2 separate regions of the Homo sapiens genome follow, and region 1 is reported to be linked to region 2. Evidence: microRNA targets listed by miRTarBase, many of them from high-throughput screens and not tested one by one. Region 2 holds a microRNA gene; the other region holds the end of a gene's coding sequence.

The links. Region 2 holds the annotated microRNA hsa-miR-4695-5p (CAGGAGGCAGUGGGCGAGCAGG, at 3,665-3,686, shown strand). A microRNA usually pairs through its seed, bases 2 to 8, with sites in the 3' UTR of a target mRNA and lowers its output. Matches are read on the target gene's strand: a 7mer-m8 pairs with bases 2 to 8, a 7mer-A1 pairs with bases 2 to 7 and ends in A, and an 8mer does both.
Region 1: miRTarBase lists LBX1 as a target of hsa-miR-4695-5p. Seed matches in the 3' UTR shown: 7mer-m8 at 4,006-4,012.

Annotation. Positions count from the first base shown.
Region 1 is chr10:101,223,153-101,228,215 of GRCh38, forward strand. LBX1 (ladybird homeobox 1) reads right to left here. Exons shown (of 2, transcript NM_006562.5): 2 at 3,842-4,638. The coding sequence ends at 4,118. LOC124902491 (a long non-coding RNA gene) reads left to right here. Exons shown (of 2, transcript XR_007062267.1): 2 at 1-1,040. Among named protein-coding and RNA genes, the nearest start is that of LBX1, 3.8 kb to the right of the region's middle. RefSeq lists enhancers at 1-187, 2,962-3,463.
Region 2 is chr1:18,881,865-18,886,935 of GRCh38, reverse strand. MIR4695 (microRNA 4695) reads left to right here and starts at 3,661; the gene lies at 3,661-3,734. It overlaps ALDH4A1 (aldehyde dehydrogenase 4 family member A1), which reads left to right. Exons shown (of 15, transcript NM_003748.4): 4 at 425-472; 5 at 1,308-1,463; 6 at 3,508-3,657; 7 at 3,738-3,812; 8 at 5,049-5,071. RefSeq lists a silencer at 2,576-2,807.

The sequences.
Region 1 (5,063 bases), not on the chromosome of region 2:
CCCACAGCCCCTCACACAACCCAGGCCAAGCTCCCTCGTACACTCAGACCAGGAGAAGAAACAGACACGCAATACACAAGCCCCGCTCCCTTGGAGCCTACACTTGGGCGAACACACCACTGCTGTTTGCAGTATCCCGAGACAGGCCCGGCAGGCGTGAGCTAAGAGGCCTCGGGCCCGAACTTGGGATTTGAGGCTCTCTCACATCGCCGGTCCCAGCGGCAGCGCCTGAGGCACAGCCAAGACCATCCGAGGTCCCCGGGCCGCGCGCAGGTAGCAGACTTCTTCAGAACTGGGGGAGCTAAAGAGAGAGTGGGCTTAGAGCCCAGGCCTCCCTGGATCCCAGATCCTCGCCTCCGCCTACAGCCAAGCCCCTCAGCTTTTGCCCAGAGCTGCTGACTTCCTCGCCGCCTCCCTGCGCAATGGGACCTAGAGATAAGCCCCAAGCCCGGGTGCTAGTCCAGGCAGAGTCGGGTGCTAGTCCAGGCAGAGTCCAGTGCTAGTCCGCGGCCTCAACAGAGCTGTCGGCTGGGCTCCGGAAGCCCACCCGGAACCTGATGGAGGCAGCGAATTCCTCAGAGCAGAGGACACTGCGGAGAGGCTCGAATCCACTTCCCACATTGTGCGGGACCGAGCGCGCAGGGCGCTCTCGCGTGGCCTCCTTAGCTCGGGTTCAGCCGAGGCTCTCACGTACACTTCGTTACCCCTTCCCCCCGCCGCAGCTCTGGTCCTTCCTTCCACTGGCTCTCTTCTCTGGCCTATGGAAACAACGAACTACTTTTCGCCTTTCAAGGCCCGGGTCCCAAGCCACCTCCTCTGTGAAGCCGCCAACACCCTGGTAGCTGCCTCTCAGTGTTTTGCAACTGGCACGGCCCTGTCCCTCGGTCCGCTTCTACTAGCGCTGGGGGTGCTGCGAGTCTTGCCCACTAGACTAGGAGCTCCTTGAGGGCAGGAACCGAATCTGATTCGTTTCCATTTTCCCAGCCCCCCTGCGCGGCCTGGCGCAGAAAAGACGCGCAATAAACATTTGCTGAATTGAATTGCGTTTTCTCCTTATTTTATTAATCCTTCCCCTTCCTTCTTTCATTCTTTCTTTTCCTCCTTCCTTCCTCCCTCGTTATTTTTTATTTCTTGGTTATATTCAATTGTCATGTTTTTCAGGCTCATTAAATCCATTTAGAGACAAAAGAATAAAAGGCAGAAGGGGAAGGGCGGGGGAGGAGAGAGGGGGAAGGGAGGGGAGGGGGCAGGCCGGAGAAGCAAACAAATAACCCGCTTTAACTAGACGGGCGGATAAATGGCCCCGTTTCTCCTCAGCCCCGACGCGCCTGCTTAGCTGCGCGCCCCGCGGGCGCCGCAGCTCGGGTGGGCTCAGCCCTGGGGCCGCCGCCCCCAGCCCAAAGGGACCCAGCGGGGCCAGGCCCAGGGCCGCGAAGCAGAGAGCGGCCGGAGGTGCCAGGGCCGCTTCATTGGGATTCATGAGCGTGTTGGGCGGGCGGCCTGGGGCTTCGGGCGCGGGGCGGGGGCCGAGTGGGGGGGTGCGCACGGCGGGCGCAGATGCCCGGGTGACCGACCCGCCGTGGTCCCTGCGCCGCCTTTGTGCCGAGGAGGCGCGCGCGGGGACCTAATCCATCAAATTGTCTACAAATTGTGAAGAAAATTCAAAAACCATATGGTCGCCAGCGCCGGCGCGCTCTGGGCTGCGGAGGGCCGCGGCCGTGCCCGCACCGGGAGCCGCGGGGGGCTGGGCCCGGCTATTGTCGCCTGTCAGCGGCCGCCCAGGCCCATTCGTCCCGGCCTTCATGGTCCGCGCTCCGAATTACAGACCCATCCATCCTAAGAGAGGGCAATTTTTGTCGCCCGGGAGGAACCAGCCGCACGCCTGCCCCGCTGCCCTGCCGTCTCCTTCCTTCTCTGCTCCTTCTCTCTCTTCTCCTCTCTTCCCATTCTTTTTTTCTCCCTCTGTCTCTGTCTCCCTTTCTCCGTTTCTCTGTTTCTCTCTCTTTTTCCTCTTTTTCTCCGTCCTGTCTCTGTGGCTCTCCGCTTTCTCTCTCTGCTTTTGGAGTGTCTTTCTGTGCTCCTATTTTTTTTTCCTGTTTCTCTCTGTCTCTTCGTTTCCTCCTGGACACGCACGTTCCTGGCTCGGGCCCGGGGGCCCCATCGCCGCCCGAGACCAGATGCGCATTTCTCACATCAATTTTGCGGAGAAAGAGAGCCCAGCGGCCCGGAGGCGGGACCCCACTCCGGTGACAGCGGCTACTCGCCAGCCCAGCGACAACAAAAGCCCGGAGAGAAACCCGCTCTGTCCAGGAAAGTGAAAGCGGCCTCAGCCCCCGCCCCAGCCGGCCTTGGGGCGCCGCAGACCCGAGAGAGTCCTTGCAAGATCCATACCTCTGCCCCCAGCGGTGTGCCGGGGTGTGGAGGCAGAATTGGTTAATGTTGCCAGAAATTCACACCAGCTCCCAGACGCTTGGGCTTACAGTTCCAGGTGCCCACATTGAAATTCAGCCTGGCCTTGATGCCTTTAGCCTTTGGCCCCCGACTCCCCAAGGATGAGGCCCTCGGGGCTAGAATCGAAACTTGGGAACCCAAGGCTCCACCCCGCGTCTGACTGAGTGATACCTGCAGCGCTCCCGGGGCTCAGCCCTGTTTTCGGGGAGTGCAGGGAGAATGCCCTTGGGTCTGGGGTGGGATGCAGGAAATGCAGGGCAAGACCCCCTCCCACCCTTTGTTCAACACAAATTAATGTTGTACTGTGGTGTGCCCCCACATACACAGGCATTTTCTCCCAGCATTTCACGGCTCGTTTTTTACCCCGACCTGGCGAAGCCCGCTTCTCTCCCGATTTAGCAGCTGCCTCAGGTTTATGGGCAAGAGGCGCCTCCTCCTGCTGCTTCCCCCTCGCCCTTCACTCTTAAGCCTGTCCTGAAAATCCCCCCCAAATCTCCAAGGCTAGGGCGACCGGCACGAAGAGCGGCAAGAAGCCCAGCCTGCCGCTGCTTCTCGGAAACGGGCCCACCACTCAGACACGGTCGCCGCCGGTTCTAGTAAAATGGCAAAGACTTTATTTATTGGAGAAAGAGGCCTTGGGTACAGTCTAGGGAGGAGAGGGGAAGGGAGGAGCAGGGAAGGGGCACTCGCAGCCCACTCACATCCAGCCACCCTCCTCTGGCCAAGTCGGGTAGGAGTGGGGTGTTCGAAGTGGCAAGAGAGACCCAGAGCTGTGGAGGAGGTGAGGTGAGGGCTTGGGTCGGCCTCCTCTCTGTCTCTGTCACATGCAAAAAAATTCTAAAAAGAGTACAAAATAATTATAGGGCTTTGGGTTCTGTTTTCGATAGTTGGTTGGTTGGATTTCCCCCTGCATTGTCCCTAAGAGCCGGACTCCAACAGTCAGTCCGAGGAAATGCGGGAGGGAGGGAGGAATCTTAAAAACAGCATTAGTGGGCATTAGGAGGCAGAAATGGCATCGAAAACAGACTTTTCTCTCAGAGGGTGGGGAGGAAAGATCGATTTTGAAACTTGCAAGTCAGGACCTGACTGCCCACCTCTTCCCCTCCCACATGAGGAAAAAAGGCCCGAGGAAATAGAAGTCAACTGCAATAAGGCCGAGGGAGGCGAGGAAGGAGCGGGCCGGTGCATTCGCCACATGCAGAGAAAAATCAAAACAGCCGGAGCTGCCACTCCCCTAGACCGCAGGGTTAGTGTTCCCCGCCCTGGTTTCTGTCTCGCCCTCAGCAAACCCGGCAGCCCGAGAGCTTTGAAAACATCGAAATCTCCGAGATTTAAAAAATAATAATAAAAGAAAGGAAAAATCAGGCTGCGGTGGGAAGAACCCGCTATATAGGTTTAAATATTTATATAGAAGCCATACAGAATTGCACGGCGAGGGCTTCCGGGGCGGCGGAGGCCGCTGGTGGCGGCCGGCCCGGCCGGCCAGCCTGGGTTTATTGCTTCGAGAGGGAAGAGGCGGCTGCCAGGAGCCGAGTCCGGGGCCGGGGACAGGGGAGGAGGCGGGAGTTGGCAGAGGAGGTCCCAGCTCCCCTCGGCGGTCCGGTCCGGGAGGCGTTGGGCTTTCGAGCGCTAGGAGCCCAGGGCGGCGGAAGACCCGGGGCGCCGCTCAATCGTCCACGTCGATCTCTTCGTCTTCCTCGTCCTCCGAGCAGTCCTGGCTGCTGGCCGGCTGGTCCGTGAGCGGAGAGGCAGGCGAGAGCTGCAGGGCGCCAGCGCCCGGGGCCTTCGGGGCGCCTGGGGGGAGGACCGGAGAGCCGGGCCTCGACTTGGCCCTGCCGCAGCCGCCGCCACCGCCGGCTGTGGCCTCCGAGTTCTGCTCGAGTTCGGCCAGCGCCACGATGTCCATCTGCCCGCTGGGGCCCAGTTTCTTGGCGGACTCTACGTCGGCCTTCATCTCCTCCAGGTCCCGCTTGAGCTTAGCGCGCCGATTCTGGAACCAGGTGATGACTTGCGCGTTGGTGAGGCCCAGCTGCTGCGCGATTTGGTCGCGATCGGCGGGGGACAGGTACTTCTGGTATAGAAAGCGCTTTTCCAATTCATAGATCTGGTGGTTGGTGAAGGCCGTGCGCGACTTTCGCCGCTTCTTAGGGGTCTGCCGCTGCCCAAAGATGGTCATACCGTCGCGGCCTGGGAGGAAAGGACAGTGTAGGCTCGCGTTGGGAGAGAGGAAGCCCACCCTGGCTCTCGCCCCCGTAACTCCGTAACCCACCCAGGCCTGTCCGGCCTGCAGTCTACCAATGTTCCCTTCTCAGATTTAATTCAGCCTCCAGGACCAGGGCAAGTCTTGGCTATGGCAAACCATCTCCTGTCTTTGGTCTCCCAGAAGTCCCTAGGAAAAATTGTTTTGGTCTCTGCCCCCTACCTAAGAGTTGGTTTGAAAGACCCAAAGTCTCTAAGGGTATGAGAAAGCCAGACAGAGACACCCTAATTGCGGTGTGAATGTTGGTTCTCCATCCCTTCCCAATCACTTCAACTCTACCCTACCCATAAGGTCCCCGGCAAAAGACTCTCGATTCCCCACGCCGAGTAGCCGGGCTAAGAGCGCCCAGGAC
Region 2 (5,071 bases):
TGTCCATGCTAAGAGACAGGGAGGGCAGTCCCCATTTCCTAGATGAAGAGACTTAGGGAAGGAAGTGAGCTTACCTGGGGCCCCACAGCTAGTAGGTGGCAGAGCCAGGATTCGAACCCATGTCTCTCTGACCACAAAGGTCCGTGCTTTCCTGGAAAGACCCTGGGGTCTATGCCTTTCTCCTGGACTCTGAGCCTTCTGGAGAAGGAGCCATGTCTTACTCATGGTATAGCGGGTACACCAGCACCCTTAACAGGGAGCAACCTGTGGGCCGGGCACTGGGGAGGGTTTCATGGGAGCGGGGGAGGGGGGACAGCAGGCGTGTCCAGGACTTTCCTGGAAAACCGGCTCTGAGTCCAGTCCTCTTCATCCTTATCCTGGCACCTCCCTCCCGGGCAAGGACCTCACTCTTCTCTCCTTTCAGCCTTTTAACCATGGACATAAGGTGGCCAAGTTCTGTTATGCAGACAAGGTGAGTGAGCCTGTGTGCCTGGTGACCCGGGGTTAGGGTTGCTGCCCCTGCTCTGCCCTGCCAGCTGCTGATATGGCGGGGGCAGGGGGCATCAGTTGCTGTGTCCTTCTTTGGCCATGGTGGGTAGGTGGGCAGGGGGTGGCTGACACTGAGGGAGTCCCTGGGTGATGTCTTTGACTGGGCCAGGCATACAAAGGTTAACTTGAGCCAAACACAAGCTGCCTCAGCCAGGGCTGAGACATTCCCAGACATGCCCATTGTGGTGGGGCAGACCTTGGACTGGGGAGGAGGTGGATTCTGGAAGGCTGAGTCAGGGCAATTGGAGACACCATTGATGGAAAGCTAGGCCAAGAATTGGCACTGGAAAGGGCCAGCAGGAGGGGCTGGGGTGGCTGGGGGTCCAGGAACTGGCATTGTGTGGCGATGAGGGCAGTTGGGGTCTGGGAGGCCAGCAGCAGAGCCGTGTCTCAGGCTCCAGTTGACCTCAAGTTTCTGGATGGTGGGTTAAGGGGCACCAGGTCCCAAGAATAAGGTAAGGTTTTGATTAGACCATGAGAGAAAGTGGAGCCAGTGTAACAGCTGCGGGACTCAGTGCCAAGGCCTCGGAGAGCTGACCAACCTGGCCGGGCCCTTCAGGCTTCAGACTGGCAGCCACTACAGGCTCTGATGGGACGCTGTTGTTGGCAGCTATGGTGGCAGGGGGCTGAGGGCCCAGGGAGACAGGCATTGTCCCCGGATGGAAGAGAGTGGCCTCCCAGGTCTCTCCTCCCTCGCTCACTCCCCAGGGCCTTTCCCGCTGCAGGTGGCAGTCCCCAACCTCTCCCTCTCCCTTTAGAGCCTGCTCAACAAAGCCATTGAGGCTGCCCTGGCTGCCCGGAAAGAGTGGGACCTGAAGCCTATTGCAGACCGGGCCCAGATCTTCCTGAAGGCGGCAGACATGCTGAGTGGGCCGCGCAGGGCTGAGATCCTCGCCAAGACCATGGTGGGACAGGTGAGGTGCTGGTGGGCCCGGGTGGGTGGGGCGGGGTGGGGTGGGAGTCAGGTGTGCCCTACCCATGGCAGCAGACATCAGCTGAAGCGCTTCTGGGTCCTAAGCCCTTTTGGGGACCCAGAGATGTCCTCAAGGGACAAGGCCTAGGAGCTGGGATGGATGATCACAGATTATTAGGCGAGACAGATTGTGCAGAGCCCATGTGTCCTGCCTCGGAAATGTCCCCTCTCCTCCATCCCTCTGTCCTCGCTCCTAGGCCTTTGTCATGCTTTGCCTGGACTGGTGGTGGCCTGCACTGTCTCCCTGCCTCCTAGCTTGGTCAGCCCCTCGCCGCCCTCAGAGTGGTCTTTCCAACACCTCCAGGATGTTACTCCTGGCTTATGACCCACCCAGACCTCTCCACCACTGAGAGGCAAGTCCCAAGACCTGAGCCCCATACCCAGGGCCCTTCTGCCCACCTCTGTCCAGCTCGCCCACTGCTCTGCATTTCCCTGCCAAGCTGTCCTGCCCATAGTGTAGCCATTTGGCACTTAGCAGGACTCCCCGGCCATGGCAGGCATCCTCTCTGCCTCTGCCCACGTGTCCTCCTGCCTGGAATGCCTGCTGTCTCTTCCGTGCTCAGTGAACTCTTACCTCCTGGTCCAGCCCAGATGTCACCCCCTCCGTGAGACTTCCTGAGCCTTCTCCAGCCGAAAGGACTATTCCTGCCTCTGTTTCCCCAGAGCATGTTGTTCCTGCATCAGTTACAGCTCAGATTGCACTGGAGTGTATTGAGTTCCTAGGTACTGCCCCTTTACAAGCTTTTTGGACATAGTAAACATGTCTTGACATTCTCGGTCTTTTTCTGGGCTTTGCATGATACCTTTCAGGAGGCATAGCAAGCCCCTGATCAATGGTTTTCTCTGCACAGAGCTGGCATGACAGCTCCTCACCCTGCTAAATGCAAGTTGAGTGAGGAGTGGCTCTAGCAGGCAGAGTGTGCGGGGGACAGGAGTCGAGGGAGAAAGGGTTATTTCACCACCTCCAGGACCTGAGCCCTACGCTGCCAACTAACCTGGGTTCCTGAAGGGTAAATTGCAGGAGCCAGAACCCAGGCTGCTTTCTGGATCAGGCATTTGCCACTGCCTGCTCCTCGGTCCCCATGGTGAGCGCCCCCTCTGCTGCACAGAGCTGGTATGACAGCCCCTCAGCCTGCTAAATGCCTTCTTAGATTGGCTCAGCAGCCCTCTGGGGTGGGCGTCAGCTCTGCGTGTTCCTGGTGAGCCGCACGTTGCTGGGAAGACAGTCTAGGATCAGTTTAGGCTTTCTCTGTATTTGGCCTAAGACTCAGGAACTTCTAGGAAGCAAGGTACACATCTTAGCTCAGCTTCATGGGCTGTGTGTCTCTAATAGGTCGTGCACCTGCCAGTGACCTTGGGTGCCAAGAGGAGGCCACGTCAATCTGGAAAAGCCCCGTTCTTGGCTGTCCACAGTTCTTTTCCCTGCAGCTCACATTTGCTGTTATTAAGAATTGACGGTTTAAGGGAATCACAGTCACTCGCCTCTTGGTTTTTGGCCCAAACTAACCAGCAAGGCCGAACATCATTCCTGGGGAAGGAGCCATCCACCTCCCACACACCGAGTCTCTCTCCTGGTTTTCCAGTGACCAATCTCCAGCTCATGCTAATCTGCCCTTCTGTCTGGAAGGCTCTGATCCTGAATTTAGTCTGAGGCTTGACCATAGATCCTTTGCCATGCACCACCATTCAGAGTTGCTATGAAATGAAGACAGTGCATGGCAAGTACCTGGCCTGCTACAGAGGATCACTAAAATTCTTCTGATCCCCGTCCAGCCCAGAGGGCCGGCTACAGGAGGTGCTAGCTCAGGGGCTTGAGAATCCTTTCCCCCTCAGCCCCTGGGATGGGACCTGGTGAGCCCTCCAAATGTTTCCTGGTCCCTCCTGGGGCCCGGCTCAGTGCTCGCTTTGGGCACAGCGTCAGATGTGAGAAGAGGATGGACAGGAGGCTGTTGGCTGCTCCTGACCCCCGGCCCTCTGCCTTGCAGGGTAAGACCGTGATCCAAGCGGAGATTGACGCTGCAGCGGAACTCATCGACTTCTTCCGGTTCAATGCCAAGTATGCGGTGGAGCTGGAGGGGCAGCAGCCCATCAGCGTGCCCCCGAGCACCAACAGCACGGTGTACCGGGGTCTGGAGGTACCTGCAGGAGGCAGTGGGCGAGCAGGCGGGGCAGCCCAATGCCATGGGCCTGATCTCACCGCTGCCTCCTTCCCCAGGGCTTCGTGGCGGCCATCTCGCCCTTTAACTTCACTGCAATCGGCGGCAACCTGGCGGGGGCACCGGCCCTGATGGTGAGATGTGGGCACAGGTGGGACAGCGGCAGCTGGTTGTCCTCCTGGTCCCAACAGACAGACAGAGGCCACCCTGAGCCCCTTGGGTCTCAGCCTAGTCATGGGGAGAGGCACAGAAGGTGGAGGCAGCTTGGGGCTGTGGGTAGGCTTTGGGACCAGAGACCCAGTTTGAATCCCAGCGTCGTGCCTCTCTGCCTGGGAGACCCTGGCAATCCCTGAACTTCTCTGAGGCACAGTTTCCTCATCTGCAAAGTGGAAATAATAGGAAAGCCTCCATGACTGGGTTGTGAGGCTCAAATGAGACACATCCAGCAGCAGGCAGGGCTGGCCCGGAGCTGGCTGAGTGTTGGTGGCTCTGTTGATGATCATTACCGCTGACCTTCAGTGCTCACCACGTGCCTGCTGCTGTCAAGCACGGCATGGAGATGATCTCATTTCATCCTCTCAGCAGCTTCGAGAGGGAGTTGTGACTCTGCCTCTTTGCCAGATGACAAAACTGAGACACACAGCCGTGACTTACTTGGCAAGACTGAGTGACTAGTAAATAAATGATGGAGCAGAGAAAGATTTGGATGTAGTCTCTCTCGGGGTTGATGGTATTCAAGTCACTCCTCTGCCATTATCGGAGTGAGGTTGGCTATTACTGGATGAAGTCCCAGGCCTGTGGGGGAGGTGCAGCCCAGCTCCCAGACAGCCTGGGTGGGAGAGGTCCACATAGTTGTCGGGAACCCCGAGCCCCAGACAGGGGCACTGGATGCTGATGCCGGAGTGTGTACTAGGGACATGGATGGGGACGTCCTCATGCATCTGTGCACAGACAAACACGGTGCATGGCCAGGCGCCCACGTGCCTGGCTGCTGCACATGCCTGACCCAGGACATGTGCTGAGAGAGCCCGTGTGTACTTGCCCCGCCGCGCCCGGTGAGCACTCAGTGACTCTAGCAGTAAGAACAGACCTGCCTAGGTGATGGCAGGACCGGTTGGTGCAGGCTTCTGGGGAAAGGGAGCCTTGGCCAGAGCGTGGGGCAGATTGGGCTGTGCCGTGGCCTCCTTGGCAGGGACTTTTGGAGATAGGGCCAGACGCCTTGGAGGAGTGGGGTCGGGTAGGGGATGTCCTGGTTGGCACAGAGTCTGGTGGTTCCAGGTGAGGGACAACCATGCTGTAGGGTAGGGTGGGGTGGGGGTTGGGGGCTGGTGGCGCCATCCTCATGCATCACTGAAACACCTCCCGGGCAGGGCAACGTGGTCCTATGGAAGCC